Regions from separate parts of the Homo sapiens genome. Here all the other regions are linked to region 2. Evidence: fine-mapped expression QTL. A gene starts in region 2. Each other region holds a variant in brackets. All regions are shown on one strand. Distances are between the middles of the regions.

Evidence for each region. PIP is the estimated chance that this variant, and not a neighbour inherited with it, causes the effect.
Region 1: its variant is fine-mapped to the expression of TBC1D16 in lung (TOPMed, PIP above 0.99).
Region 3: its variant is fine-mapped to the expression of TBC1D16 in tibial nerve (GTEx, PIP above 0.99). The same link has a PIP of 0.9 or more in cerebellum.
Region 4: its variant is fine-mapped to the expression of TBC1D16 in pancreas (GTEx, PIP 0.96).
Region 5: its variant is fine-mapped to the expression of TBC1D16 in tibial nerve (GTEx, PIP above 0.99).

Annotation. Positions count from the first base shown.
Region 1 is chr17:80,068,495-80,074,768 of GRCh38, reverse strand. All of the region lies in intron 10 of CCDC40 (coiled-coil domain 40 molecular ruler complex subunit), which reads right to left. LOC124904074 (a long non-coding RNA gene) reads left to right here and starts at 3,233. Exons shown (of 2, transcript XR_007065931.1): 1 at 3,233-3,537. The variant T/C (reference allele first, on the strand shown) is at 3,902.
Region 2 is chr17:80,033,018-80,039,291 of GRCh38, reverse strand. It overlaps TBC1D16 (TBC1 domain family member 16), which reads left to right and starts at 3,420. Exons shown (of 12, transcript NM_019020.4): 1 at 3,420-3,497. CCDC40 (coiled-coil domain 40 molecular ruler complex subunit) reads right to left here and starts at 2,650. Exons shown (of 20, transcript NM_017950.4): 1 at 2,601-2,650; 2 at 1,106-1,169. The coding sequence starts at 2,629. RefSeq lists enhancers at 1,848-2,142, 3,042-3,161 and a silencer at 3,352-3,421.
Region 3 is chr17:79,929,538-79,935,811 of GRCh38, reverse strand. It overlaps TBC1D16 (TBC1 domain family member 16), which reads left to right. Exons shown (of 12, transcript NM_019020.4): 12 at 1-3,469. Among named protein-coding and RNA genes, the nearest start is that of LINC01979, 6.0 kb to the right of the region's middle. RefSeq lists an enhancer at 4,081-4,300. The variant T/A (reference allele first, on the strand shown) is at 3,487.
Region 4 is chr17:80,938,505-80,944,778 of GRCh38, reverse strand. It overlaps RPTOR (regulatory associated protein of MTOR complex 1), which reads right to left. Exons shown (of 34, transcript NM_020761.3): 25 at 4,178-4,283. Among named protein-coding and RNA genes, the nearest start is that of CHMP6, 50 kb to the left of the region's middle. The variant C/T (reference allele first, on the strand shown) is at 2,400.
Region 5 is chr17:79,947,880-79,954,153 of GRCh38, reverse strand. TBC1D16 (TBC1 domain family member 16) reads left to right here. Exons shown (of 12, transcript NM_019020.4): 4 at 1,336-1,497; 5 at 2,557-2,704; 6 at 3,576-3,743; 7 at 4,289-4,437; 8 at 5,148-5,282. Among named protein-coding and RNA genes, the nearest start is that of LINC01979, 24 kb to the right of the region's middle. RefSeq lists enhancers at 2,083-2,666, 2,667-3,250, 3,835-4,418, 4,419-5,002, 5,003-5,586 and 1 more. The variant G/A (reference allele first, on the strand shown) is at 3,177.

The sequences.
Region 1 (6,274 bases), 35 kb before region 2:
AAGACTTGAAAGTTGAAATTACTCCTCAACCCATGGGTTGCAGAATAAATGCTGTGTTACAGGTGTGGAAACAACATTCATCTTGCACAGCTCCAGCTCCATCAAAACTCTTGGGTGACCAGGTACATTTTCTTTCTTTCCTTTTTTCGGTTTTAGAGACAGGCTCTTGCTATGTTGCCCAGGCTGGTCTAGAACTCCTGGCCTCAAGCAATTCTCTCACCTTGCCCTCCCAAAGTGCTGAGATTACTTGAGCTAGCATGCCCACCAGGTGCATTCTCTTTTTTGAGACAGAGTCTCGCTCTGTTGCCCAGGCTGGAGTGCAGTGGCGCGATCTCGGCTCACTGCAACCTCCGCCTCCTGGGTTCAAGTGATTCTCCTGCCTCAGCACCTGCCGCCATGCCTGGATAACTTTTTGTATTTTTAGTAGAGACGGGGTTTCACCGTGTTAGCCAGGATGGTCTTGATCTCCTGACCTCGTGATCCGCCTGCCTGGGCCTTCCAAAGTGCTGGGATTACAGGCGTGAGCCACCGCGCCCGGCCGGAAGGTTTGATCTTCTGTCCATACCACCTGAACTTTCTCCAGACGCGCAATTAGGCTGCTTCCCTTTCTTTTGTGTGTTCATTAGAGCAGCACTTTAAATTTTCTTCAAAAACTTTTCCTTTGTGTTCACAACTTGGCTATCCCTTTGGTGCAAGAGGCCTAGCTTTTGGCTTATCTCAGCTTTTGACATGCCTTCCTCATGAAGCTTAATCATTTCTAACTTTTGATTTAAAGTGAGAGGCGGCCAGGAGCGTTGGCTCACACTTGTAATCCCGGCACTTTGGGAGGCCGAGGCAGGCAGATCATTTGACGTCAGGAGTTCGAGACCAACATGGTGAAACCCTGTCTCTACTAACATACAAAAATTAGCCGGGCACGGTGGCAGGCACCTGCAATCTCAGCCACTCGGGAGGCTGGGGCAGGAGAATCGCTTGAACCCGGGAGGTAGAGGTTGCAATGAGCCAAGATCGTGCCACTGCCCTCCAGCCTGGGGGACAGAGTGTCTCAAAAATAAATAAATAAAATAAAAATAAAGTGAGAGGCATGAGACTCTTCCTTTCACTTGAGCACTTAGTGGCCATTGTAGGCCTAATTTCAATACTGTTGAGTCTTGGAGAATAGGGAGGCCCAAGGAGAGGGACAGAAATGGAAGAACGCCAGCCGGCGAGCAGTCAGTACACACACGACATGTCTTGATTCAGTTTGCTGTCTTAAACAAGGGCAGTTCGTGGCTTTGCCAAAAACCAATTACAATAGTTAACATCAAAGGTCACTCATCACAGATCACCATAACGGACGATGACAATGAAAAAGTTTGAAATATTATGAGAACGACCAACATGTGGTGCAGAGGCAGGAAGTGAGCACGCACCGCTGGAGAGATGGTGCCGGTGGACTTGCTCCACACGGAGCTGCCGTCAACCTTCAATTTGTAAAAAATGCGATTCCTGTAATCCCAGCACTTTGGGAGGCTGAGGCGGGTGGATCATGAGGTCAGGAGATCGAGATCATCCTGGCTAACACAGTGAAACCCCGTCTCTACTAAAAAATACAAAAAATTAGCAGGGCATGGTGGCATGTGCCTGTAATCCCAGCTACTCTGGAGGCTGAAGCAGGAGAATTGCTTGAACCCGGGAGGTGGAGGTTGCAGTGAGCCAAGATCGCCCCACTGCACTCCAGCCTGGGTGACAGAGTGAAACTCATCTCAAAAACAAACAAACAAACAAACAAACAAACAAACAAAAGCGATTCCACGCAGTAGGAGAAAGCGAGGCACACTGAAACGAGATGCGCCTGTATTTACCCGGGAGAAACGGAAACACGTCTCCATGCAAAGATCTTTTCAGGACAGCCACAGCAGCTTTCTTCACGGTATTCCAAAGGTAAAAGCCAAATGTCCATCAGTTGGTGGATGGACAAATACATCTGATGTATCCGTGCAAGGGAATACTATTCAACAATAAAAAGGAACAGACTACTGATCTTGCAACATGGGTGGGTCTCAAAAGCATGATGCCAAGTGGAAGAAGCCAGACAAGAAAAGCTACAGACTGCGCGATTCCATTTATATGACATTCTAGAAATGGCAGAGCTATAGGCACAGAAGGCGGCACAGCGGTTGCCAGGGCTGGAGGTATGCAATTTTGTACATAAATTATCCCCAGTCATCCTGACTTCAAGTAAATAAGTTACTCATTTTCTTTTTTTAGGAAGGAGCAGCCTTATAAATGTCTAAATTTGACAATAAAAATAAGATGCCCAATTTAAAAAGATACAGTTACAAACTGTGCAACAGAACTCCTAACACTCGGGGAAATGTGTGCCTGAGAGTGTGCTGACATGCTAATGAGTCTTCTTGTCACAAAAAGAGAAAGTCGATGGTATTTTTAAATCCTTTTCTCTGTTTTTCAAATGTCCTGTAACGCAATCACTTATCCTTGATAAGGATTATTATTTTTTTAAATCGTACTTTAAAAACTCCGTAGATCAGCAGGCACCAATAGAAAGTACAGGTTCTCCTCAGCTTACGGTGGGGATGCAGCCCGGCAAACCCATCGTAAGTTGAAAATATCCTAAGTCCAAAATGCAGGCTGGTGCCGTGGCTCACGCCTGTAATTCCCAGCACTTTCAGAGGCCAAGTGGGGGCAGATCACCTGAGGCCAGGAGTTCAAGACCAGCCTGGCCAACATGGTGAAACCCCGTCTCTTTTAAAAATACAAAATCAGCCGGGCATGGTGGTGGTGCATGTCTGTAATCCCAGCTACCTGAGAGGCTGAGGCAGGAGAATCACTTGAACCCAGGAGGTGGAGGTTGCAGTGAGCTGAGATCGCACCATTGCACTCCAGCCTGGGCGACAAGAGTGAAACTTCATCTCAAAAAAAAAAAAAAAAAAAAAAGCTGAAAAACCCAAAATGCACTTCCTGCAGATTTCCTGCCAGGCACCCCGGCTCAGCCCAGCCTCCCTCAAACGTGCTCAGGACACTCCCATGAGCCTACAGGTGGGCAAAATCATCTCACACGAAGCCTGTTTGATAATAAAGTGTGGGGCATCCATGTAATTTATTGAATACCGTGCTGAAAACCAGGGAGGTTGTGTGGGACTCAAAGCCCAGTTTCTGTTGCCTGCCTGTTGCTTTAATACCATGGTAAAGTCCAAAAATCGTGACGTCGGGGACTGTCTGTAAATGAAACAAAAAGAACGGATGGAATCTGGAATATGGCCCAGGCATTGGGCACCGTGCCTCTGAGGATTAAGGGGGGGACACAGGAGGTGTCCAGCAGCCTGTGGTCAAGGCCGGGTTCTCTCCCAGGACACTGCCCGTGGCTTTTGTCCTTGGGTCGGCCTGCCTGGCTGCCGTGGCCACAGCTGAGGGCCTGGGAGGAGGCTGTGAGGCCGTGTGGCTGACCGAGTCACATCTTGGGGTAAAGGGGCTGTGGCTGCGGGCCAAGACCTGTCTGCCCTCTGTATTTCCCGCCAGGAAATAGGACAAAGGCAGGTAAGAGCACGGGTGCTTTTGGCTCCAAGTCCCAGGCGTGTGTGAATTCTGATTAGGTTATCTGCCTCCAAGTTAAGTGCGGTCCAGGCTTTGTTTTCTGAAAGTGAAAGTGACCCATTTCCCTGCGTATGTGATGGGAAGGGGCTGACCGTGGGCTCCTCGTGGTTATTCACCTAGCTTTGGGACCCACGTTGGATTGCCTGGACCGCTGCGGTCTTTGAAGGGTTGGTGTGGCAGGCCCGGTCTGGTCTTGAGGGTCACACACGGTTCCTTCAGGACTTCTGGCTGCTGGGGAGGGCAGTGTCCAGCTCCCACAGGCAGGCCCAGATGGACAGGGGGTGTGCCCACAGCCACGGTCATTCCC[T/C]GGTGGGAAGAAGGGACAGGACACCATGAGCTACCACAGCAGTCCTGACAGGCCTCACCCATGCCCCTGTGTCTGGGGACACTTTTTTATTTTTTTGAGACAGGCTCTGGCTCTGTTGCCCAGGCTGGAGTGCAGTGGCACCATCTCGGCTCACTGCAGCCTCGACCTCCTGGGCTCAAGCAATCCTCCCACCCAGCCTCCCGAGTAGGTGGGACTACAGGTCTACAGGTGCACACCACCATGCCCCGCTAATTAAAAATTTTTTGAGAGACAGGGTCTTGCTCTGTTGCCCAGGCTGGAGTGCATTCGTGCAATCACAGTTCACTGCAGCCTCAAATTCCTGGACTCAAGTGATCATCCTGCTTCTGCCTCCCAAGTAGATGAGACCACAGGCACACACCACCACACCTGGCTATTTTTTATATTTTATTTTAGAGACAAGGTCTTACTTTACTATGTTGCCCGGGCTGGTCTTGAACTCCTGGGCTTAAGGGATCCTCTTGCCTCAGTCTCCCAAAGCACTGTGATTACAGGCAGGAGCCACTATGCCCGCCCATGGGGGCACATTTTTAATGGGGTTGTTACTCTGTCTTTGGTCTGTGGCCTCAGGTCTGCTGGGTCACCAGTGTCCTTGGGTATATGGGGCATTGGTGGTGACTGGGACCCACCTGCCAGATCCCCAGGCTAGAAGGAGGCCTGCTGGGGACACTGTGGCAATGCCCACACCCAACCCATCCCACACTGCCTTCCGCTCCTTCCTCCTCCATCAACTGGGGGCAAGGACAGTGTCCCCTTTGAGGGGCTACACCAGACCGAGCTGAGCCTGGGGCTTGTTACCCAGGAAACAGTGAAATCACCCGCTCGTTGCCTAGCTCTAATTCTGCGTTCAGTGTCTTGCTCCATCCTGTCCTCCCTCCCTAGGGCAGGCTCCAGCACTCCATGCCAAGGGGAAGAGCCTTTGAGGAGTCGTCTCTGCCATCATCAGGACTGAGGGAAAAGGAAGTCTAGGAGATTAGGGCAAGCCCTCAGTTTTCTTTTCTTTTCTTTCTTTCTTTTTTTCTCTCTCTCTCTCTGTCTCTCTCTCTCTCTTTTTTTTCTTTTTCTTTCTTATTTTTTTGAGACGAAGTCTCGCTCTGTCACCCAGGCTGGAGTGCAGTGGCACCATCTTGCTTCACCGCCACCTCCACCTCCCGGGTTCAGGCGATTCTCCTGCCTCAGCCTCCTGAGTAGCTGGGACCACAGGTGCCCGCCACCAGGTCTGGCTGTTTTTTTGTATTTTTAGTAGAGACGGGGTTTCACCATGTTAGCCAAGATGGTTTCAATCTCCAGCTCCTGAGCTCGTGATCTGCCCGCCTCGGCCTCCCAAAGAGCTGGGATTACAGGCGTGAGCCACCGCGCCTGACCCCTTCAGCTTCCTCAGGTCGACTTAAACAGGAAACAGAATAACACGTTTCATGTTTCTCCTGAACTTTTATGACCGTGTGCAAAACTCCTGCAAAAATAGGGAAGACAGCAAGAAAAAGCAGCCAAGACAGGCACAGCTTCTGAGCTAAGCTTGCAGCTTGTGTATGAGACACGGGGGCAAGATTATGGTTACCGCCCCCCCCACGCAGCAGCAACCCCCTGACCAAGGACGGGGAAGTCAGTCTGTCTTCAAAGCATTAGGTTGTAGACTCGACATCAGACGAAGAGAGACACAAAGGCATGGGGAAAGAGAAAGGGTGAGGTTTGGCTGGAACCTAATCAAAGGTATTAACTTATCTGAAAAAATGCCATGGGTGTCAGGAGGGAGGAGGGGTGGGGAATGGAATGGAGAAAGCAGCCAAGGTCAGGGTGAGGGCTGCTCGCGGGACACCTCCCGCCCATGTGGACGGACAGGCCATGAACTTCGGGGAAGAAGCAGGAAGCAGACAGGGCCGGGGCCCAGGCATTCCGCCCTCTAGCCGGTCCCTGAGCAGGGGTCTGTGTCATCCGCTCCTGTGTCCTCCCCCACAGATAAGAATCTGCTAGTCCGAGCGTGGAGCATTCGGTTCTTTGGTGTTTATATTTCATCATGCACATAAATGGGCTATTATACTCAGTTACACGTCAGGCTCTGGTGAGCTCGATTCATGTAAACTAACTCCAGGACAAGTGTGCCTTCTCGGTGTGATGGCAAAACCAAGCTTCTGGGCCAGGGGGTCCTGCCCCATGGGGATCTCGCAGGGTGAAGGCTCCAGAAATGCCCAGACAGCCACCAGGGTACCGGCCTGGTATGCACCATCCTGACCATCAGCCAGGAATGTCACCATTTTCTAAGATGCTCTACAAATCTGAACATCTCAAGGTCAATATTTGAGGTATAGTTCAGTCACTGCACTCCTAGCTTGGAAG
Region 2 (6,274 bases):
GGGTTCAAGCGATTCTCCTGCTTCAGCCTCCCAAGTAGCTGGGACTACAGGTGTGTACCACCATGCCCAGTTAATTTTTCCATTTTTAGTAGGGATGGGGTTTCACCATGTTGGCCAGGCTGGTCTTGAATTCCTGGCCTCAAGAGATCCATCCGCCTCAGCCTCCCAAAGTGCCGGGACCACAGGCGTGAGCCACCATGCCTGGCCCTCTCTGCTTTTCATAATCATTTTTGCATCCTTTGTTACAGGAAATGAGTTCCGAAAAACTCAGGGCAACCCAAAGTTGGACATCCTTTGCATCCCTGACTAATCACTGACACTGTAGAATGGGGTAGGAAGAAAATGAGTCTCTCTTCAACTGAATTGAGTTTGTTCTGGTGCAAGATAATGTCATCATACAATATACTTGACCAAGTCCTAATTCTCTTTATTTATTTATTTTTAATTTAATTTTATTTATCTATTTTTTGAGATGGAGTCTCGCTCTGTCGCCAGGCTGAGTGCAGTGGCACAATCTCGGCTCACTGCAACCTCCATCTCCCAGGTTCAAGCCATTCTCCTGCCTCAGCCTCCCGAGTAGCTGGGACTACAGGCGTGAACCACCATGCCTGGCAAATTTTTGTATTTTTAGTAGAGACAGGGTTTCACCATGTTGGCCAGGATAGTCTCGATCTTTTGACCTCGTGATCTGCCTGCCTCGGCCTCCCAAAGTGCTGGAATTACAGGCGTGAGTCACCGTGCCCGGCCTATTTATTTATTTTTGAGATAGAGTTTCACTGGTCACCCAGGCTGGAGTGCAATGGTGTGATCTTGGCTCACTGCAACCTCTGTCTCCCGAGTTCAAGCCACTGTCCTGCCTCAGCCTCCCGAGTAGCTGGGACTACATGTGCGCACCACCACGCCCGGCTAATTTTTATATTTTTAGTAGAGATGGGGTTTTACCATGTTGGCCAGGCTTGTCTCAAACTCCTAACCTCATGTGATCCACCTGCCTTGGCCTCCCAAAGTGTTGGGATTACAGGCGTGAGCCACAGTGCCCGTACTCTGATTCTCTTTAATTCCTAGTAAATATAAGCCCGGAATAACTGCCCATAGGGAATTTTACCATGTGGCTTTCATTATTCCCTTCCTTCTCTCCCTCAGAAGCCGATCCATCTTCCGGATGGGACCTGGTTTTAGAGAAACAATTGAACAGTTTCAAGCAACAGCTTTCTTTTTCTTGGTCCTTATCCCCTCCTGAATTCTGCACATCTGTTTATTTACTTGTTACTTCTCTGCCACCCCCAGGCTGTTGTCACGTCTTTGTCCTGTTTGTCAGGAACCATAGCACTATATCATGCCTGTCAGGTGGCGGAGATGCCACAAAAGCAAAGCTCCATGAATGAATGAAAAATATAATTATTAAAACATCGAAGGAACAGCAGGATTAGATCACCCCAGAAAAGTCACCTCAAATATAACTTGTGTCTGGGACAAAACTGGGGAAAAGAAATACAACGTAGAGAAAGTAGCGCGATCAGAGTAAGTGTTCTGGGGACTCTGAGTTTCTCCACGATTTACGTAGCACAGGAATATATATATATATATATATATATGTATATCTTTTTTAAAAAATTAAAGATTCAAGCTATTTTTATCTGTCAAAGGAATATAGATATGTTCAAAGAGACAGACAGTGACAGTTCCCTGTGATCTTCCCTTTCCTTCCCAAGATAATCATTGATAACATTTAGGACCACATTCTTTCAACATTTTTCTATGTTTTAAACACACACACACACCCTGAATTAGAGATCATAGTATACCTACCCTTTTACATTTATGCCTATCGTTTTATTAATAATACCTTTAGTCTTTCCATGTCAATACATACAGACCCACCTTTAAAAAAATGAAACAATACCGATGTGTCTAAGGTAAAAAGGCCAAACTCTTTCCAATCGTTTCTATCCTTTTAAACAGAGCCTAAGCGAGCAGAGGCCCGGTGGCAGGGATCTTCACTCAGCCGCCCTCCCTGTGCGCGCTCAGTGCTTCCACCCAGGCCCCAGGACGGTGACCGCGGACTATCGCGGGCCGCCTAACCGCAGGGACCCCTCCCATCGCGGGTCACCCCCAAGCCTGCGAGAGGGGATCTGTCCTTGCAGGAGGGAGGCGCGGGGCCGGGCTGGTCTCCGGCCACAGCGAGTGGCCCCGGAGCAAGGTCAGGGGCGGTATCCAACAGCCCCGCGCCCTGCAGAGCCCTCTACTCTTAGGAGGACTGCGCGCAGGGACCGCCACGCAGAGTGGTTGCCATGGTGACTGCAGAGTGAGCGGTCCCGGGTTTTAGAGGGAGTCGCGCGCTTGGAGTAGGGGAAAGAGGGAGGCCGAGAGAGGACAAAGGGACAGGAGGGGAGAAGTGAGAAGGGTTGGCGGGGGGGTGAGGGGCTGAACGCAGTGGACGGGAAAGGCCAGCAAAATGGCGAGAGAAGGGACACAGGCGAGAGGAAGGGGGAGTGGAGGCGAAGGGGCGAGGCAGGAGCCGACGCGGGGGCCACCTGGAGCGGTGAACGGAGAGCGCGGCCTGGCGACTCCAAGACCCGCTGCCCCTCGGCCCGGCTTACCGGCCCGCCGCGCCGCCCGGTTCCGCCATTTCCCGTTGCTAGGCGACGCTGTCAACATCCGGCCGGGCCGGGACCACGCGCGCTGCGAGGGCGGGGGCCGCCGGGGGCGGCGCGGCCTTTGTGCCATCTCCACGCACGCAGAGGCGCGCGCCGTCTCGACGTGTCGTCCCTTAGACTGTAATGATTAGAGCACGACCATGCTTTTCCTTTATCGCTCTCTGCGCCCGGGTCCCGCCTCGGCTGCGCTCAATTTCTGTAAAGCGACAGCGGCGTCAGCGTGTGCCCAGCGGGCGGCTCGAGGTCCCGAAGGGACCTGCCGGGCACCTGGGGACCCCGGACTGCTAAGCGCCCGGGAATGGCAGGCGGGCTGGGGGCACCGGGGGCCGGGGACCCCGCGCATGGCGAGCGCTTTTCCATCTCCTGCCCTAGGGGGCTCCGGTGCCCTTCTCCAGGGGTCCTACGGAGACTCCTTGCATGGACGCCCGGGGGGTCTTCCGGAGCGTATCTTCCCTTCCTAGTCCGAAATAGGAGAAATCTCCCTGCAGAGGGCGGCAGCGGAGGGCCAGCGCGCACGCGGAGCGTCCGAGGAGCCCTGCCTTTCCTTTGGGGACGCCAGGCTCGGGACGGGGCACAGTCCCCGAGGCCGGGACGCGGCGAGGCCTGAGGGAGGGCCAGCAGGGAACTAGAGGCTTGGGCCCAGGGCTGGGCCAGAAGGTGGGCGGGGAGACCGGCGGGGGCAGGCAGGGGCCGGGCCGGGGGCGGGCCCGGGGGCGGGCCGGGGGCCGGGCCTCCCCGCGCGTCCCCGCCCCGCCGCGCCTCACTGGCGGCGGCAGCGGCGGAGGCGACGGTGGCGGCTCTCGGAGCCGGCGCGAATCCGGCCCCCGCAGCGGGACCCGGGTGGGTATCGGGGCCCGGACGGGGCCGCGGGGGCGGGGTCCGAGGGGTCCACCGCGCAGCGAGCAGCGCCCCCTCGGCGGAGCTGGGGCGGGGGCGCGCGGGGCGCGTGGGGCGCGTGGGCCTGCAGCCGCGGGACCGGGGAGGGGCCGGGGTCCGGCCGCCGTCCTCGGGGTGCGGGGCGCCAGCAGGAGCGGGAGCGTTGTGGGAGGACCTGGATCACGGAGGGGCACCTGGGGACTTTTCCCCGCGGCGAGTGAGGGCGCCCGGGCCCGGAATGGGCCTAATTCGGGGAGACTGGTCCCCGCCTGTCTGGAGCGGTGGACCGGGGAACTTGCGGTCTTTGTCTGGCTGAATCGGCGGAGCAGACGGATGAGAACTTGTGGGGTGCCGGCGCGCGCCCACACAGCCTCCAAAGTGTGCGTCCCCCCAGCAGCGCGCGCTCAGCTTTCCCGGCCTGTCGGGCTTGGTGGTCTGGGCTGTTTAAGATCCGCGTGTCGGGATACTCACTTCCGTTCCGCCTGGGCTCCCTTGTTCTTTCCTTTGGGAAAAAAAAAAAAAGAAAAAGAAAGAAAGAACGAAAGGAAGGAAAGAAAAAAAGGAAAGGCAACTGAAGATTGCTAAACATAACCTAGGGGATCCTGCCGGAAGCCGCTGAATCCTGAAATCCTGTGATTCCCACACTCGGAAGCTGGTGTCGTATATTGGCCACAAAGTAGTTCAGATTTGATTCAGAAATAGGAAATGAATAGAAAAGACATAACAAAAGTTAGTCTCGCCTTATGGTAAAGTTTGTTTTACTGTCTGGGTCAAGTTCAAATGAGAAGCTGGGCTGATTGGCCAGCCTCTGCGACTTGATCCTGAAGATCTGCTTTCTTTTCTACCAGAAGGCTCCTAATTCTTTTATCTGGAATAAAAAGGGAACTCCGTCTTAAAGATGCTCACGTGAGGCGGCATATTGCCAGAGGGTGGGCGCAAAGACTGGGGGCTGGAGATTCCATTCCAAATCTGTTACTGATTGATCAGAACACTTTTTCAAATCCATGCCTCAGTTTTAGAAAATCCTCATTAGAAACGCTAACAGTAAAATTGGTGAATACTAAACACTTTTAAGAACCATGAAAGCTTTTGTAAATAAAGAATAAAGTGAGGAGTAACTTTTGGTATTAACTACAAAGTTCATTAATGGATGTTGTTTGCATCCTGAGCGTGGTTATTGTGCGCATATTTTTTTGTAAGTGGCATGTTTATGGTGAGACTATGGCTAACGAAAGTTTTTATGGCGAAAGTTTTTATGGCTGGGCGCCGTGGCTCACGGCTGTAATCCCAGCACTTTGGGAGGACGAGGCGAGCGGATCACCTGAGGTCAGGAGTTCGAGACCAGCCTGGCCAATATGGTGAAACCCCCCATATCTACTAAAAATACAAAAATTAGCCCGGTGTGGTGGCGTGAGCCTGTAATCCCAGTACTCAGGAGGCTGAGACAGGGGAATCGCTTGAGCTCGGGAGGCGAAGGTTGCAGTGAGCCAAGATGTGCAACTGCACCCCAGCCCGGGTGATAGAGCAACATTCTATGTCTCAAAAAAAAAAAAAAAAAGGAAAAAAAAAGTTTTTATCTGTGGAATTATTTAATCCTCTAGCAATTTTGGTGATTGCGTTAGTAGTTCCTAATTATCATGCATGAATTCACTTAACCCACAAAACAAGCTCATGAAGTCAGGACTGCAGTTATGCCCATTTACAGATGGGAACACTGACGCTTAGAGAAGTAACTTCCCAAGCTCATGCAGTTAGGAGTGACAGAATTAGGCCTTAGGCCCAGGACGTCCCAGCTCCAGAAAACCGTTGTACAACTTTGCCCTCTGTCTTACAGAGGGTGCCCACCATTCATATACAAACATTCTTCCAAGTGGTTCATAACAGTGCAAGGAGGTGGGACTAATCCCATGTCACCACTAGCTGCTAATCTCAGTTCACTTCAGTATGGAAAGCATCCCCCAGGCTTCAGGATAAAGCCATTGAGTTTGCAGAACCTACCTACAATTGCACTGGTCTCTGTCCACAGTTTTGGGTAATAAGGTGCAGTGGTTAAGAACATGGCGTAGAAAGATGGACTGCTGGCTTCAAATACAAATCCTGGACTGGGCATAGTAGCTCACACCTATAATCCTGTATTTTGGGAGAATCACTTGAGCCCAGAAGTTCAAGACCACCTTAGGCAACCTAGAGAGACCCTATCGCTACAAAAAATGAACAAATTAGCTGGACATGCTGGTGGGCACCTATGGTCCCAGCTATTTGGGTGGCTGAGGTGGGAGGATAGCTTGAGCCCGGGAGGTCAGGGCTGCAGTGAGCCATGACCAGCCTCTGCATTCTAGCCTGGGTGACAGAGTGAGACTCTGCTTAAAAAAAAAACCTAAAAAACCCAAACAACAACAACAACAAAACAACAACAAAAACCCCAACTCCTCTGGCACTTAGTTAATTCTCCAGTGCCTTAATTTCCCCATCTATACTACCTACTTCAGAGACTTTGTGCAAGGATTATGAAAAGCATTGAATTCCTGACACATCCTGAGTTACCATTTAGGATGTGGTAAGTAATGTCAAATGGTAACATTTTAACACTGTTATTAATGACCGTTATTTGGATTTTCCACATTTAACTAGATTGACACAAAACATTTTGTTTTTGTGCTTTGACTCCTCACTCCCCTTTGTGTGGTCCATGAGGTGGAAAGTGATTCCAGGCAGATGTAGGATTTACTATTTGTGCGTAT
Region 3 (6,274 bases), 100 kb after region 2:
ATTACTGATGTCCATGGCAAGTGATCTGTTCTTGGTATTTTGTTTTGTTTTGTTTTGGTTTTTAAATGTAATCACCCATTGGTCAGGCCCAGGACTGGTCACCATGAGCTCTGCTAGCCACGGCCCCAACGATGCTTCCGGCTCTCATGGATTCCACAGCAAATAAAACTGTACTGACAACAGATGCACGCTGTACAGTGCCTCTGGAAGGTGCGGTGGGACTTGCTGGGTCAAAGCACGGCAGGCTCTGTGCTGGGCAAACAGGGCCCCGTGGCAGCCCAAGGGCAGCCTGCAGACGCCAGTGTGCCCGGCTTCTCCCATGTTCTGAGATGGGGGAGGGGAAGGTGTAAAAGAGAGCTGGATGGGGGCTGTGGGGACTGAGGGTCCTGGGAGGCTGGCCAGGGGCTCAGCAAGCGCCCACTTTGGGAGGCCTTGCCCTCTGGGCTGTGGTTGGACAGCACTAGGCCTGCAGGCTGGGCTGCCAGGAGGAAGAGCAGCTCCGGACCTCAGGCCCCCCCAGCAGGCGGCGATGGAGGGTGATGGGAGAATTGACGAGTGCTCGCGGGGTCTCACTCGGGAAAGGGCCGGTTAACTCTGAGCAACTGGGAGCCTCGCTCCCACCCCAGTGCCTGGAAACACAAACAGTATTTTATTGAGCCTTGGCTGCCGGGGCTCTGGTTTCAGGAAAAGCCTCAGTCCTGCATTTGTGAATTTTTAAGGAGGCAAACAAGGTGAATTTGACCTTCCTAGGAGTGGGAGTTAGGGAAAATTCAGGCTGCCCTACCAAGCCCTTGGAACCGTGCAGCAGGGGTCAGGGGAGGGATGGGCAAAGGCGGTTTGGCCCATGGAGCAGGTCTCCTGGTCCTCCCGGAGCACGGGGGGCGGGGAGCTCCAGCTCTTCATCAAGCGCCCTTTGGGGTTTCCAACTGTTTTCTGTTGTTCTCTGTGTGTCTTTTCCCCTTTTGCCTGGGGGCGGGGGCTGGAGGGGAACATACCTCTTATCTACATCACTCGGGTCTCATGTCTGAAGGGCCTGTCTCACCTGCCACCTACCTGGCCTTGGCCTCGACATCTGAGCGCCTCATCACCTCCTCTCCACATGCCCAGGGGTGCCCCTCCCAAGGCTGGCTGGGCAGGTCCCACGGACTAGGCCCCAGGAGGAGCAGTGGGCTTCCCCCAGGAAAGAGCAGAGCCAGCACTGCCTGCCTAGGGAGGGCACCCACTACCAGGCATGGCTGGTGGCTCCGTTTAAAGAAATCTTTGTCCATGTGGGAGTGGGAGGTGCTTCCCCATCCTGCCTGGAAGCCACGTCCTGGCTCTTACCGTGGACTCTGCAACAGCCGTGGTGGCCACATGAAGATGGAGGAACCTGGTGGCTCAGGGGCCCCTGATGTCACCGCCTCCAAGGCAACGGGACTGGGCAGGGCAGCTCCTCAGGAAGGATGATCCCACCTGCACGGGTCAGCCCTGCAGGGGGACAAGGCCCACCACAACCCCACCTCAGGCCACCAACTGGACCTGTCCTGCCAAGAAGGTCCCTTCCAATTTGTCCGGCAGCTGGTTCCCTGGATACAGCCCAGACGCAGCATCATCCTCATGTTCACCTCTGCTGTGCCCTACTTCCCCCGTAAATGACAACTGTGTAGTCACCCACGCCGGGCAAGAGAACATAGGTGCCACCTGGCGGGCCACACTTTTCAGGGGCCGTGCCTCGGGCAGGCCCGGCTCTCTGTTGTCCCGCAGCCCTCAGGGCTGGCGGTGGCTGCTCAGTGCCTAGGGAGTGCCCTTGCCACACAGCTGGGCAGCGAGCATGACTCAGCGTTTACACTCAACCAGCCGCACAGGCTCCAGAGGGGAAGTTCTCTGGGGTCCTTCTATGAGAGAGCATCCTGTCTGCAGCCCTGTTCTGGCTCCTTCCACATCATTCATGCATTCATCCCACGAGGACTATGGTACCGTGGGCTCGCTCTAGGGAAGCAAGGCAGGAGCGCACTGGGGCTACTTGGATTCCCGGGGCAGACACATATGTACCCTGCACACCCTCAAATGAGCAAAGCCACCCCACTGGCCCCTGGGTGAGGCCATGTGGACCCCCACACCTTTGGGGCCGGCTGGGCAAACCTTGAACCCCCAATTTCTGCGTGGCCTTTGGCTGCCCTCCTTCTCCAAGGCGTGACTCTTACTCCAGAGACTCAGGCGAGCACGTGTCCCTTACCTTATTTTCTCTCAATCAAACTGAAACCCATTGTGATCCCCCATAGTCCAGTGCGGTCTCTGTTATTATTACGGGTGTCTCCCTTCCTCCCCGTGCCCAGGACAGGCCATGAGCCAGAGATACAAGGGGCCCCAGGCAAGATGCAGGGCTCTCTGCTCCTGGCTCTTTATCGTCGTCGGGACACCCTTTGTCCAAACTCAAGGAATCCCGGGAGGTCTGGCTTTGCCGCTTTGGCTGGGACTCAGGTACCTGGGCATACCTGCATCTGTGCCCCCTCTTCGTCCCAGTGAGACGGACCCTCAGTATCCCCCCCAACATAGAACAGGAAGGTCTCAAGCCAGCCCCCTCCTCCAGTTCAATCACCCTCCCTCACATCCACCCAGAGAAGTCCAGACCTGTGGCCACTTCCATGCCCTCTCCAGACCAGGAGACACCTGCTGCTGACCTCGTGGAAAACTTAGATTTTGACATTCTGATGCTTCGGAAGTGGTGGCTCCTCCTCCTTCACCCCTCCGCCACCTGTGGGCCTCCTCTCTGCATCTCAAGAGAACAACCAGATCTTTGGGCTCCTGGGGTGTGTGCCATGCAATTTAGACGAAGTGCTTTGAAAATATGCCATTCAGTCTCTGACTAGGAAAATAAGTCTGACCTGATAGGTCCGATGTCATCAGCTCTTCAACATGAGACAAAAGAGGGGATTTTATGTTTTGAGTCATTAGAATGATATAATAATTTTCTGAATTGACATCTGGATGTTGAAATTAGGATGGTGCAAAAGGGGTCCAGGGCCTCAGGCTGGGCGCAGCAGCCAGCTCCCAATGACGCAGAAGCTGCTTCAAAACCCCCTCAACAAAGAGGGGCACATGCAAGTCACCAAAGTGGGAAGCCTTCACCAAGGCCACACCCAAAGTCTACTGATTGTCTGTCCAAAGTTCGTTGATTCCTGGCCATGAACAAGCACAATAGAAAAAGACACAGGGTCCTAGTGGCTACAAGTCAATGTGAATTGGCACATGGTCTAGCAGTTTTAAAATCTGACAGTAGAGTATGGCAATGGGCAAGGGCCAAGAAGTCCTGAGATGGGAGGTCAGCGCTCTAACTGGGCTCAGTGGAGGTCTGTGACCAGTGTCTGGACACTAGCTACAGGGGACCGGGCAGAGGATTCTGGGCAGAAGGAAAATGTCTAAAAGTACTTTGGGAGGGTAAAGGACAGGGGCCTTATTTAAAATAAAGACTGAAGGATAATAAGTGTCACCCAGGTTTGTGGATTA[T/A]TGGAGGGGGCACCATCTAGCCATTCTCCACTTTTCCAGTGTGGAGAACCTGGGCAAAGGCGCCAGTGGTCACATGAGGTGCTGCCACGGGGCGGGCTCTGGGAGACCCACTCTAGACCGCTGACCTCTTGGTGCCATCCATTCTGCCTCCTAGAACTCTGGGGTTCTGAGTGCGTGCTCTTGGTGGGGGCCTTCCTCTTTGTTGGGAGAGCCGCTGCTGAAGGGGCCTCTCCCTCTGGCCCAGGATGTAGAGGACACGTGAGGACTACACAAGTGCAGGGGTGGGTGCGGGGGTGGGTGCGGCTTTCCAGCCCTCGCCTTCACTGCACTGGAAGCCTGCTTTCTGGTGTGACCTTTGGGTTCCCTCTCTGCAAGCAAACAACCAGCTCAGACAAAACCAACCATGACCACATCTCAGGTGGGTGGCACCTGGGTCACCCTCCCACCACAGCCCCTGGAGCAGTTTCCAGGTACCTGGCCTCCACTGTCTATTCCACTCACCTCCTGCTGATGTGGACAACTTTAGAAATAAAGTACCAGGGACCCCAGACCACTAGGCAAGAGCCCAGGTGCCCCCTGGGAAATGCCACCACCCACCCCAAGAGCAGGGTGGGGTCTAGCTCCTGAAACAGTCTCCTCTGGGCAAGTGCTGCCTTTCTTCAAAGTCCAGGCGCCCTCTTGGTTGTTGGATAAATCCCCAGGTTCTGCCCCATGATTCATGTAGACGGGAGTTTCCCCCGGTTCTCTGTCTTTCTGCCTGGCTGGGCCACAGATGAGTGCCCCAACCCGGCAGACAAACAGAATTGGACTTTTAGGGTCAGAGGCAGCCAGCCTGAGATGGAGTAGGGTGGGGGCTGGGGAGGGTGTTGGGACCCCGGGAAGGGGATGAGGACATTCCAGGGGAGGTGAACTGTTTGTTTCCCTGGAGGGTTAGACAAAGAACCGAGCTCTTGCAGATTTTGCCGGAAATGCAACTAGAGCTATTGATAGGGTTGAGGATGGGGTCTTTCAGGGTGGGTGAGTCCCTGGAGCTGACTAAAGATTAGTGTTAGTGCAGGTCAGATGAGGAGCTGCCCCCACAGGTGTCGCTCCAGGTGCCCACAGCAGGGACAAACCCCCGCCGACCCCCTGCCCCACGGGAGCTGGTTGCAGCTTCCCCTCCGCCTCCCCCACCCCACCTCTCTCTGTCCCTTCCCCCGTGCAGTGGCCTCAGGGTGGCCACCCACCTGCTCCCAGGGGACGTGAGAGTGTTAGCAAAAGCACCATGCCCTTCCCCTCCACCCTCTGGAGCCTTCAGGGCAGCCCCAAAGCGGTCCCAGTGTCTCTGAAGGGGCTGGGGACCCGGAGTCTGAAATTCAGCTGATGGGTCACCAAACTGGCCTGGCCTCTGAGCCTCTGCACCGATCCTCTCACCCCATCAGGTACCTGAAGCTGATCCAGGACACCAAGGTCTGTTTGTGTGGGGGGGCTGCCAGCTCCCCAGAATCTGGCCCACGATGGTTTTGATTAGAGGAAACACCCCACCAGAAAGCATCCCAGAGATACCTAGAGACCCCCTGTGGCTTCCCCAAAGTGTCCCCTCCCCTCCCCACGACCTGAGAGGCTGCCATGCCCACGGCACGGGCCCCCTGGGGTGCTGTCCTTTCTAGAAAGCAGGTTCCAAAGGTGGGGTTCGGGCCTACTTGGCACAGGGAGGCTTAGACAGAAAGCGGGACTCCCCTCTGCCACGGCCCCCCAGACCCCGGCCGGCTCCTCGCGAGGCTGGACCCGCCTCCCCACCCCCTCCTTCGTGCGGTCCTGATGAAGGCGCCGCGTTTTCCGAGACGCAGAACTGCTGTGGGGTGTCTGCAGAGCCCGGGCTTCTCACCGGGAACTGCTCTCCTGGGACGGAGGGCGGCGGAGGCCTCCCGGAGCCCCCGGCCCACCTGAGGCCTTGGGGGCGGGGTCCGTGCGCCGCGAACCCCACCGAGCCGGGCAGGAGGAGGCGCATTTGGGCACAAAGGGACCTCGCGTCCTCAAAATAATCCTCGCCGCTAATTCCCATTCCAGCAGGAAGAGGCCGGCGCCGCTCACATCCACCCCATTTTCCGCGGAAGGGGCTTTGTTGCTTTTCTTTTGATTTCACCCCAGCGGGCGCGCGATCCCGCCCGGCACACGCCTGGCCTCCGAGCCGCTGCGTGCGGTTCTGCCCAAGTCGGGGAAGGAGGGGCGCGCAGAACGGGAGAGGGCTGGAGACGGGCACAGAAGGAGAGGAGAGGAGAAGAGAGGAGGGGAGAGGAGGGGAGAGGAGGGGAGGGGAGGAGAGGAGAGGGGAGGGGAGGAGAGGAGAGGGGAGGGGAGGGGAGGGGAGGGGAGAGGAGAGGGGAGGGGAGGGGAGGGGCGGGGTGCGAGAAGGGGCAGCAGCCCCCGGGCCCAGTCATCCAGCCACGTCAGGTGTGCGTCGGGTAAAGGTAGTAACCTGGTGGCGGTGACGAGGAGGCTGGAGAACGTGCAAGAGGAGGCCGAGCCTCAGAGTCCCAAAAGTCGGAGGAAACTCCCCACCTCCTGGAGCCTCCCACTTGCTGTAATTCCCTGCAGTGACCCACCCCACCCCAACCAGGGCAGCGAAGGACCCACCGGGCCCTGGCCCCAGGCCCCTCTGAGCCTTCCACCCACCCTGCCCAAGCCCTCACCCAGCCCAGCCCTAGAGCCCGCCTGTAGCCGGGACACCGCACCACTCCCTCCACCCTCACCCTCAGCCGCCAGCCCCTGTCTGTCCCTGTCCAGCCCACCCTCTCTCTATAAAACC
Region 4 (6,274 bases), 910 kb before region 2:
CCTCAAGTGATCCATCCACCTTGGCTTCTCAAAGTGCTGGGATTACAGAAGTGAGCCACCATGCCCGGCAAGCCAGTCTTAATTTACAATAAATATTCACGACGTATCTTATCATGGCCGACGTCAATACCTTGGGGACTTGGAGAGGCACAAAGGAAGCAGAAGAAAAGCAGGGACTGAAGGGAGGGGCCTGACCACCTGCTGAGGAGCAGGCACATCTGGGCTCTTGGGGTGACGGCAGCCACTGAGTACCCAGAATGAGGGCCCAGGGGCCCTGGCCGCAGGGTTAATGCCTTTGCTCAAAACCCCCAAAGCTCCTGATGCCGAGCTGGACATGTGGAAGCATTCAGCCAATACTTGTCAGCAGTGGTCAGGTTTGTACAAATTTATCTGGGTCAGATTATATGAAGAAAGTGCTAAAGTTTCAGAATAAGCTCGGTAGGGCTCTGATTCGTAACAGACTTAAGGAGGAGACATGGGTGTGGTCGCCAGGATCCACATTGCAGCCAAAGTCCGGGGGTCTTTCAGTCTAGAATGGTAACTATGAACTTCCTTGACTGAGGGATCTATTACAGAATCACAGATTTAACAGAAGAGGGGAACGTGGACTTAACCACCAGGCCCCCAAACACGAGCACTAGGAAGTAAGTCCCTTGTGACTCTAAAAGGCTTTTTTCTAGAAGGAACCATAAAAGGAAGCTAAAAATGCAGAGGGCGCAAGATGGATTCCAACACATCCTGGTGACTGAAAGGGCAGCTGGGGATCTGTGGGTGCATAAGCCTCATTGTCTGTTGTGGCACCAAGGACACAAGCTGGGCTGCCTCCTGGCCTTGGCTGCGGTCACCTGTGTGGCCTCTGGGCAACCAGGAGGGTGTCTTGGGGACCCCCAAGCCTTCCTCAGCCAGAGACATAGCTCCAGGTGGTGCAGAGAGACACCGCCTGGCTCTTACTAACCGTGTCCTCACCTGACTGGCTCTTACTAACCGTGTCCTCACCTGACTGGCTCTTACTAACCGTGTCCTCACCTGACTGGCTCTTACTAACCGTGTCCTCACCTGAACTTCTGGTCTGGCTCAGAGGACCGTTGCCCGCCTCCAGTCTTCCCTGTGGGGAGTGGTGGGCTTGTGCTCTGGCAGGAAGTGAGATAGCCAAGTATAAAGGGGTCCCCAGAGAAACTCCCACCAGCCTGCACACTGGGACAACGGGGGGAGCCACAGAAGTTGGCGCCCTTTGCAGCAGGAGGAGCCCAGCCTCCCGATCTGGGGTAGAACCTGGGATCCAATCTGCGAGGCGGGAAGTGCACCAGCAGGACTCCGGCTTTGCGGGGAGGCCCTGTTTCCCGTTTTTTCCTTCTCACCCAATAAACCCTGCCCTTCCCACCCTTCAAAGTGTCTGGGAGCCTAATTTTTCATGGTCATGTGACAAAGACCCTGTTTTTAGCTGAATTAAAAAGTCCTACAACAGAAGGAGCCTACCGTCGGGGTGCAAGGTCAAAGCCGCGCGACTTGGGCACTCTGCTGCAGGCTGCTCTGAACTGGGCTTAAGCACAGCCAAAGCCGCCCACCTCCAGCAGCTGACAGCCCCTCCGCTTGTGCCTGGCACTGTCCAGGTGGCACCAGGGCCACGGAGTCTGCGGGCTGAAGCCTCACTGATGCCTGGTGTGTGCTCGGCACCTCGGGTGAGCTACTGTTTCCAACAATGTCAGTCCCCAGCAAACACCCAGAACCACGGAAAGGAAATGAATGCCACGTTATACAAGGAGAGGCTGCACTCACAGAGGCAGGCAGGCCCGAAGGCTTTGGTGCGGCGGCAGCACCGTGTTACCCTAGTGGTGCCTCCATTCCCAGCTGCAGGGAGTTCTGGACGGAGTTTGGGCATAATTCTAAGCACTGAAGGACAAAGGGAAACCCCACCCAGCCCACGCATTTGGTACGTTTGAAAATCAGTGCGTGACAGCCAAGGTCGTGAATGTTGCCCAGGAGAAGGCTGAAGAGCCGGGCAGGGGCCTGCGTGACACAGGGCTTTCCCAACCCCGTCTCCTGGGCGACGCCGACTTCTCTGGTTCTCTTCCATCTACAGGCATCAATTCCTCCTTTTTCTCAATGCTCACATCTTTCCCAGCACACAGTTGGCTCCTTAAATGAAAATAAACGCCTGCACCGAATCCGAATTCCGAGGACAGAGGACTGGGAGGAGGGCGCGGCCTCACTCCTCAGTGACTCCCGGCACTACGCCTGCTGGCACCACGCCTGCTGGCACCATCCCCTGTGTCTTGAGGCCTCATTTGGTGGTGTCTCCAGCGGCTCAGCAGCTCCTCCTTTGTGTGTCTGGACAAACTCTGGTTTACAAATATATTCTTTTTTTTGGTCTAGAAATCTCGGTTTTGGGTCTCGAATGC[C/T]GGCTCTGTTTCGCACCCTGCTCAATTCTGACCACAGGCTCCAGGCCAGAGCATCACCTTGGCCATCAGGGGCCAGCTCATCTTCAGATGTTGAACTGTGTGAGGCAGACTCAGCTCCCAAGCCTGTCTCAGGCAGCAGGCAGCCCCCGTGTGCTGGCCATCCCAGCTAGCAGGCTGGGGTCCTAGAGAATCGCTAACCTCCAGGAAAACAGCCTCCTGTCGCCGCCACCTGGAGACGCTCATCCAGCAGGGTCTGTTCTCTCTGCTGGAGAAAGCCACCCTGGCTGCAAGGTTCAGCGGCGGCCGCCGGGGCAGCACGCACCGGATTGCAACATGCGATGCTTTAAACCTGGTCTGCCGCCAGCTCTTCAGATGCACAGAGGGCTACAAACAACCACAATTAGCTTTCAGCACAACAGCCACCGTCTGCGTTAATGCGAGATGAACCGCAGTCTTTCACAGAGAGAGCTGCGTGGGAATGCGCTTCAGAAACGTTGCTGGTACCAGAAGTCAGCAGTGTTTTCGGTGATCAGCAGAGCAGAGGTGTGAGCCGGGCCTAGGCACGCTCGCTGAGGACGCGCTCATGGCGCCTGTGCTGCCTGCGGGCAGGGCCCTCGGCTTTGGCAGGAGGGAGGACATCTGTCCTACGGGTCATCAACCTCAACTTCAGAAAGTAACCCATAATAATCTCCAGAATTTTACAGGACAAAGATGCAAGGTCAAAACAATAAACCTGCAGACTGGGGTCAGAGTCCTTGACTTTTGATGGTGCTGATTTGGTTGGGGGCAGCTTGAGGTCCCCCAGCCAGAGCTGGCTCAGTGGTGGGAGCCTGTGGCCGCGAGGGCAGGGGGAGGAGTGCGGAGACACCACTGCTGCTCCGTGCCCTCAGTGGGGCTGTAGGGCTGGGCCTGGGCCCCTGTACTCTCCTGGATCCTGGGGAGAGGCCAGGGTCCCTGGGATGGGGCTGCCTGACACCCTCATTGCTGTGTTGACTCTCAGGGCCTCCCTGCTCCCCACACAGTCTCTGTGACCGGGGCCGCCTGCAGCCTGGATCCCTTCCGCAAGGAGCTCCCTCCGCTGTCTGCGGCAACAGACACCGCCCCCTCCAGGGCTGCTCCCTGCCCCTCCACCCCGGGTGCAGCTGGGAGAGCAAACAACAAGGTAGGTGAAGGGAGCGATTTGGCATCTAGTGGCAAATCTGGGAGAAGGTTTAGGAAAATCATGACTGAGATGTGGGGTGACAGAGCTGGCCACCATTTCAGGGACAAGTGGAGGCCAGCTGAGGAAAGCAGGGCCTGGCATTTTCACTTCCTGTTTCCAGGGAAGGATGCGCCATGTGTAGGGCCTGGCGCAACGACACCTGTCCGGGTGGGGAGATGTGGGCTCTCAGAGGCCTTCCCTTCCGGAAATGTCAACATGCAAAGTTCCGCCTCCATGAGTTCCACCTGCGCTGATAATCCCGAGGGCTGAGGGCTGCCCTTGCAGAGGAAGAGGCAGGGTCCCGGGAGAGCCCTCTTCCCAGGCGGTGGCTGGGTTCCCACCCGGCCCCTCCCCTCCCCACTCTGGGCTGCAGAACCTTGAGGAGCAGCAGCTTCATCTCCACCAGCCTTGATGTGCTTATCTGCAAGGGAGGTGGGGTGCGGGGCGGGTCTGTCGTGGGACAGTGGATGGCTGGAGAAGGTTGTGCGTGGGCCGCGGGGGGCCTGCTCACAGGGGACCCTCGCCCCAGGCCCCACCCCCGGAATGAGCCCCTGGCTGGCTGTGCGGGTGCCCTTACCCTTCTGAATGACTTGCTGGGCCTGCCTCCTGACACGGCTGTTTCGCAGGAACCGCCACTCCCGCTCCTTGCGGATCTGACTCTCCAGGTCGTGCTCTTCTGGGATCTTCAACAACAGAAAACACCCAGTTAAGCCCAGCGATGAAACAGGGTTGTCTCTTGGTATCAATGGGGTATGGGTTCTAGGACCCCTCGGATAGCAAAACCTGCGCGGCTCAGTCCCCAATACGAAAGGGTGTGGCATCTGCGTACAAGCAGAACACATCCTCCGGCACACCTCAAACCCTCGCTAGCTTGCCCGCCATACCCGACACAGTGTCAACGCTGTGTAAATAGCTGCTATGCCGTATTTTTAAAATTTGGATTGTTTCTTGTTGTATTGTTATTTTAAATTTATTTTTGTTATTTACATTTGTTTTTTTATCCAAAATTGGTTGAATCTGCGGATGCAGCACCTGTGGACATGGAGGGTTGGCTGTAGTTATTTTCAGATGAAGGCACCTCTTTCTCAAAGGCTGAAGGCTTTGGGCTTCTCGTCTGGCCAGTGCACCAGAGGCACGGGCTGTTGTGGGTCCTGTGTCTGCTACAAAACACATCGCTGGTCCCTCCCCGGAGCTGGGAGAGGCGCTCTCCACGCCTGTGTTCACTAGTGTGGGGGCTCTGAGACCCTTGAGTGAGTGGCCTGTGAGGCTGACAGGTGTATGATGGGGACCAGGGCCTTGGGAAACGCCTCCCCAGGGAATGGGGGGCACTGAGGTCAGCACTGAGCAGCAGGGCAGGGGGGCACCGAATGCCGCTTCAAACACTGAAAACACAATCAGGAGGCAGGTGCGCTTGAGGAGACACTGCCTTTATTCTCTCTCTAATGCCAAAGGGAACCAGGCAGCTGGCTGGAAGATGAGGGAGCTTACGAGACAGAAGGAAGACAGCCTCATGAGAGGCCAGGCCGGGCCCCGAGAGAGTGTGGGACCTTCCTGGGCAGCAGAGGGGGTGCCACTGGGCTCCTGATGGTGGAAGAGCTAGGAGGGTGCTGAGCTGCAAGCCTGGCTGGGGTTAAACTAACTCGTGAGAACTTCAGTGCCTTCCCTAATGAGACAGCTTCAGAAAGACCAAGTTTATTTTCACTTGAAATATGCAGACGCTAGACATGCTGCTGCCCTCTCTTCCCTGAGCAAAGGTCTTCATTCACTTCAGGGCCTTTGCGTGCATGCGTGTGTGTGCGTGTGTGCGAGTGCGTGCATGTGTCTGTGTGTGTGCACGCACATGTGGGTTGGGGTGTGCACGTTCAGCGTCTAGGAGAGGTCCACACTTGGCAAATACTAACTAGGATTTAATTGACTTTCCGCGGGAGGATGGCCACTTGTCTGGGTTACGCAGATGCATTTCCTTAAGCATACATGCCGTCCAGTCAATCTGGCTAATTCTGTTCCTTGCTAAGAAACTAAGACTTGTGAAGACCCAAAATATAAAATAAATGAAATAAACAAGGTAAGAACCCTAATTCCTTTTGGCTAAAAGCAACTCTGTCTCGACAAAGGAAAAAGAGAGCCTGCATTAGTTATTAAAAAGTCGCTTTCTCTGATAGAAGAAATGGGAATAAAGACTATGGCGCATGGCCGTGTTTGCGTCCTTGCACGTAAATGTGGCGGAGAAAGAAAACGGTTTCTCCGTGTGGAGTTTTAGGCGGTCGTTGTAGGTGGTTATCATGTGCAAATGCTTACAGAGCATTCTTTGTGTCTCTTCCTCGAATGCTTTGTGTCAGCTCTGATTACAAAACAGAAACAGGCAAGCCCCAAACCTCATGTCTGACCCCGTGCTCATGGGTGGCTGTGGCTCAGTTCCTAGCATTTGATTGCTCTGCTTCCTTCTTTTTCTTCTTAAAAGTCACAAAACCACACTCGATAAAACAGCAACAACACAGCAAAAAAGACATCCAAACCCGGAAACAGTAACCACAAAAGGTGTCAAATGGCTCCCTCCGCACATTTTCTGATTTAGAAATAATCCCGCAACGGCAAATGGGATAGACTGTGGATTCTTAGCAACCAGTTTCACTTGACGACAATCCTGAGCTTATTAGAAAAGAAATGACAAATG
Region 5 (6,274 bases), 85 kb after region 2:
TGCAGTTGGGGTCCAGAGCTGAGTCTTGCCTGTACTCCGGTTTTATTTTAGCAGACATTTGCTAGACATTAAATCTCAAGAGAGTGTCAGGCGCGATGGCTCACGCCTGTAATCCCAACACTTTTGGAGGCTGAGGCGGGTGGATCACCTGAGGTCAGGAGGTCAAGACTAGCCTGGTCAACATGGTGAAACCTCGTCTCTACTAAATATATAGAATTAGCTGGTCATGGTGGTGGACGTCTGTAATCTCAGCTACTCAGGAGGCTGAGGCAGGAGAATCGCTTGAACCCGGAAGGCAGAAGTGGCAGTGAGCCGAGATCGCACACTGCACTCCAGCCTGGGTGACAGAGCGAGACTCCGTCTCAAAAAAAGAAAAAAAAAAGAAAAAAGAAAAAAAGAAAAAATCTCAAGAGACAAGATTTAACCTGTGAGGTGGCTGAATCCATATAATAAGATATTTTGCAATTTGGAATGTAACAAACTCATAAAAAATAACAGAATAAATGGGGTTGTACTGCTGAACTGCAGACAGCTGCACAGTATGCTGGTGAGAACATGGGCCACAAAGCTTGGGTTCTAATCTCAGCTCTACCACTTGCCAGCTGTGTGACCTTGGGCAAATTACTTAACCTCTCTGGGCCCCAGTTGCCTCTTCTTTACAATGGGGTAATACCACTATTCATTTCAGAGGATTTTTGTGAAGATTAATTGCAATAAAAGCACCTGAGAAGCATTAGCTCAGGGCCAGGCCCATAGTCAGTGTTTTAATAAATGCTGATGATGTTATTAATAGTACTGAGAACCCAAATGTTTCCTAACCAAAAGCATAAACTGAACCAGTACTTTTCAGGAATACAGTGAGCTGGTTTAAACCACGCGGAAGCCCCATGCTATCTAAAATCATCCCAAAACAACCAGTTTTAGTAAAGCCCAGCCCCACGCTGTAGGGAAACCCAGCCTTGTTATTCTCCTGCCTTCTTTATCCATGGGAAAACGAAGGCTGAGAGAGGCTTGGTGGCTTGGCCAAGGTCACACAGCGAGGAACCCCAGTCAGTGTGACCTTGGCTGTCAGGACGATGATGACTTACTGCCTCTATTGAAGTGGAATGGAATTTGATCATGAAAATGCTTTCCCATCCAAGTGGAAGTAGAACTGTGCAGTGGGGTTCATACATTCATTTATTCACAGGTGTTTACAGGGCATATTCAGCCGTGCCTGTATGTGTGTTTAAGCTTGGTGCGTAGGTTTAAATGACTCCCCCATGACCCCCGTCCCCCTCTGGGTAGTGTGGGCAGGGAGAAGTGTGGCGATCATCACATAACCTGTTCCACCAGCCCCCCGTCCAGCTCCGACGCCGGCCTGCGGTTCCCGGACAGCAACGGCCTCCTGCAGACCCCACGCTGGGACGAGCCGCAGCGGGTGTGCGCCCTGGAGCAGATTTGCGGCGTGTTCCGCGTGGACCTGGGCCACATGCGCTCCCTCCGCCTTTTCTTCAGGTAGGAAGCATCTCTGGGCGCCTCCTGGGAGTTGGCCTGTGTGTGTTTTCCCTGGCAGCCTGGGCTTTGCAGCCGGTGCAGTGCACGGCTTGGGGACACAGGGCCCTGGATGGAGTCTTCCCAAGCGTCTGCTTTCCTCCCTCGCTGATCTTGTGGGCAGTGATTCCCCACTGCAGCTCCCTGACAGTTCTCAGGCTGGGTGAGCTACCGAACTCACTCCCCTACCTTCAGCGTGATGGTAGCCAGCGGTTGCTTGCAACTCTGGCTTGGGAGAAGAAACCAAACCAGGGCAGAGGGTAGCAGCTGCCGGCGGCTCTGATCGCCGGGGGATGCTCTGGAGCTCGGCCACCTGTGCGGGACGGGCCGCAGCTTTCCGGATGGAGGCTCCCTTCCTTTCGTGATGGGTGGGCGATGCCTAGTTTCCTGCAGTCATTCCCCACACCAGATCCTCCTCCTTATAGTCAGGGCTGCCCAGCCGCAGACATCACCAATGAGAGGCCCGGGCTTAGAAGAAGCCGGCGTGTCCAGAAGCTGGGGGGGTTCCCAGACCCAGAGCCACATTCCAGCCTTTCATCTAAGGGCAGCCGGGGCTGGGCTGACAGCACTGACGGATGTTTACTGAGTTTCCCTGGAGGGTTCTCCCAGAGTTCCACCCACACGCAACGAAGGAGGTCTGTTCCCAGGAGGTTCTCTTAGCACATGGCCTGCCAGGGCTCAGAACTGGATTCCAGGGCACTCAGCGTTGGGACCCAGGTCTCCCGGACTGCAGGGACCATGTTGCCGGGCAGGGGGTGGTGGGGAGAAGGCCACTCTGGCAGGTCTCCAGAGAGGAGCTCCAGGGCCCCCCAGGAAGGAGCAGTTTTGCCATCTTCGGCAAAGGGGGTGGTGGTTTTTGTTCGGTGTAGTTCTGTCCCCTCCCGCTAGCAGCCAACTCCACTGGGACTCACTGTTTCCTGCTTCTGAGGTTGGCGACAGTGGCCTCTGATTATACTTGGAAATAAAACCCCCGTGTTTACATATTCATCGGGCTTCCCTCTCCCCCTTCCAATGGCCCTTCAGCGACGAGGCCTGCACCAGCGGCCAGCTGGTCGTTGCCAGCCGAGAGAGCCAGTACAAGGTTTTCCACTTCCACCACGGCGGCCTGGACAAGCTGTCTGACGTGTTCCAGCAGTGGAAATACTGCACCGAGATGCAGCTCAAAGACCAGGTAGCCCAGCAGACGGCCCCAGAATGCCCAGCGGTTGACACTCCCCACCCCCCACGGGCCCCATCTCCCTCCTGGGTCCTGTGTCTGGGGTCCCCGGGCCCCGGGGGCTTACGGGGTGTGACCCACGGTAGTTTTTGGCCGTCAGAGCAGCAACTTTGGGTTTGAAACCTTTGCCCAGGGCTTTCGGTAAAGTCAGTGCCCTGCACTTGAAAAATCATGTTTTGACAAGACTTCCTGCCATATTTTGCTCAATCTACGTACAAATGTAATAAGAGCTCTTTAATTATCTGTTTAAGGTACTGTATGTGCTTATTAGAAATGGGGCCGATTTTAAAATTCCCTTCCTTCCCGCAGAGCCTCCTGCTGGCTTCCCTTATTACAGTAGCATGGCTTTTTTTCCCCCTACATTGAACAACCTTTGATTTTTGAATTAAATGTCAGCTGCAGTTTTGCCCTGGATTCGTGACTGCTC[G/A]CGGAGGCAATCTGACAGGCTGGCTCCCTGCTCGCAGAACAGCGATCCCTTTGTATGTGGCCAATCACATGTAATTCATTGCAGGCCCTCCCGGCAGAGGGAAGTTAGGCCGAACGAGGCATTCATTCCGTTTTTGCGGCTGGGGTTGGAGAGAGTGGGGGGCGGCGGCACAGTGGGCCGGGGAGGAGAGAGCCGCAGAGGGAAACCGATTTTAAGATGAAGGTATTTTCATTTTAATTGCGCCTAATTACACTCGCCATTTAGGGGTTTGTATGCAGGGGACGGCCCTTGCCCTCCTTTCAGAAGAGAGAGAGGCTTTTATTCCTGGGAAAAGCACTGCTGGCCTCTGAAGCCGCGCGGCTGAGATCCTGACCTTTGCCCAGTTTTCCTCCCGTCCAGCAGGTCGCCCCCGATAAGACATGCATGCAGTTCTCCATCCGCCGCCCCAAGCTGCCGTCCTCCGAGACGCACCCCGAGGAGAGCATGTACAAGAGGCTCGGCGTCTCCGCCTGGCTCAACCACCTGAATGAGCTGGGCCAGGTGGAGGAGGAGTACAAGCTGCGGAAGGTGAGGTCCGGGTCCGCCCAGCTGGCCCCGCGGAGAGCCGGCCGGGAACCGGGAACGAGCGAGAGGGAAGGAGGGCCGGGGCCTGGCCGCCCGCCCGCACCCACGGGCCACCTCCTCGTGAGGGCCCCGTTTTCTTGTGTGAGGCTCTCTGTGAACACACCGATAAAGCAATCAAAGCTGCTGCGTTGAAAAAAAAAAACAAAACACAACACCTCCCTCGAGGGTTTGGGGGGATACCGTGTCAGCCTGCATAGAAGGGTTTGCAGTGAAATGCAGCATTTCCAAAACCAGGGATTAGGCCATGACGTGAGAACGACACGTTAATCTGAGCGCCACCCCAGGGGGGGCATTGACATTGAAATGAGCCGGGTTTGTGTCCTGTATGGGAATTGAAGGCCACTGCTTTCCCCTTGTAAATATGTGCAAATTGCAGAGATCTGAATCAAGGCGCACCAAAAACCACCAAAACACACATCTCTGGGGATTTGGGGGTTCTTTGAGCTGCCCCATTTTATCCCCTCCCCAACTTTTGCCGCTTCCTCCAGGCCATTTTCTTTGGCGGTATTGATGTGTCAATCCGCGGGGAGGTCTGGCCCTTCCTGCTGCGCTATTACAGCCACGAGTCCACGTCGGAGGAGCGGGAGGCGCTGCGGCTGCAGAAGCGAAAGGAGTACTCTGAGATCCAGCAGAAAAGGTAACCGCCGGGGCCAGCCCGGCCCACCCCGCCGAGCCGCGGAGGAAAATGTCATTTGAAAAGGCAATTTGAGGTGCAATTCAGCATTGATAATATGTTTCGTGACCCATAGTTTCTTTCAAAAATGGGTCTCCCAGGAACGTGAGTGATAGGGTGGGATAAGTGCAGTCATTAAACCAAGCACTCGGGCCTCGGAGCTGCGGGGCTCGTTAGCTCACATGTCAAGGTTTTAGAATTCTCGTTCAACAGACTTAACTAGGCGCTGACGTCCCACAGCTGAAGGCTGGGGCTGGGAGCAGGGCCTGGAGGGGTGAAGGCATCCGGAGACTGTGTCCCACTTGGGATCTGCTAACCCGGGACTGGGCTCAGCTCTCTCTCCAGGAGGCTGGGACTGGGTGAAGCCCCTGGGCTGTGCTCAGCTCCCCTCCAGAACGCTGGGCCAGGGCCAAGGCCTCATTACCCACTGGGCTGCAACTTGCTCTCCTTCCTGGGACGCTGGAGACTGTGAGGCTGAGTTAATATCAAGGAGAGCCTTGGATACACGCCACCCATCCGCCGCATCCGGGGAGGGTCTGCAGCCGGCAGCAGCCGCCCAGCTCCCGTCCAGGGAACGGGGGTTGGGAGGAAGGGTGGCTTCCTGCAGTGTGTGCGCCACACGATGCCTCTGGGTGCCACCCGCTGACCCCGGCTGGGTGCTCGGCTCCACACAGGCTCTCCATGACTCCCGAGGAGCACAGAGCGTTCTGGCGTAATGTGCAGTTCACTGTGGACAAAGACGTGGTCCGGACAGATCGGAACAACCAGTTCTTCCGGGGGGAAGACAATCCCAATGTGGAGAGCATGAGGTACTCCCTCCCCAGCCAGCTCCTTTCCCATCTGCAAGTCTGCAAGCCTCACCTGACCGCTCTGGGAAGTGGATGAGCCCCCAGCGAGTTTCTGCAGGGGCTCTCTTCCAGGTTCATACATCAAAGCCCCAGAAGTGAAGGATACGCTACTCATGAGCTACGTCAGTTGGCATCTCAGAGCCATGGCATCCCAGGGAAGCCACCCAGGTCCCTGCCCACAGAGCCCCTCTATCCCCTGGGCACCACCAAGCCTGTCCTTGCTTGGCTCACACTAACCATGGACCAGCTTCCCCATGCACCCCCTCCATCTCCCCGTGGGTGGTCCCGTAGTCATACAGCCACACAGAGCCAGAGGCTGGCATCTGTGACATTCTGCTACAGCCTAGCAAATAATTGCACAAAATTAGCAGCCCACAGAAATGTCCCTGCCAGCCCACCCCTTGTCACAGGCAGTCCACCCTTCAGAAAATCAGAGCCATGTTCCCCCTTAACCCCTGCTCTCAAGATTCTGGGCCTAGACAGCAGCTAATAGCAGGCCATTACTTTTTTTTTTTTTTTTGAGACGGAGTCTCGCTCTGTCATCCAGACTGGAGTGCAGTGGTGTGATCTCGGCTCACTGCAACTTCCGCTTTCCGGGTTCAAGCGATTCTCCAGTCTCAGCCTCCCAAGTAGCTGAGATTACAGGCGTGCACCCCACCATGCCCGGCTAAGTTTTGTATTTTTAGTAGAGACAGGGTTTCACCATGTTGGCCAGGCTAGTGTCGAACTCCTGACCTCAGGTGATCTGCCCACCTCAGCCTCCCAAAGTGCTGGGATTGTAGGCGTGGGCCACCGCGCCCGGCCAGGCCATTACCTTTTGCAAAGCAAGGGTCTGTGTGTCTGGAAGCTAAGCTTGGGCTCTGAGATGGTGGCACAGCTGCCTTCCACTGAGGTGAAGGCAAGCGAGGGAAGGCAGGGTCCACGGCCCAGGGTTCTGCAGGCTGGGCAGTGTG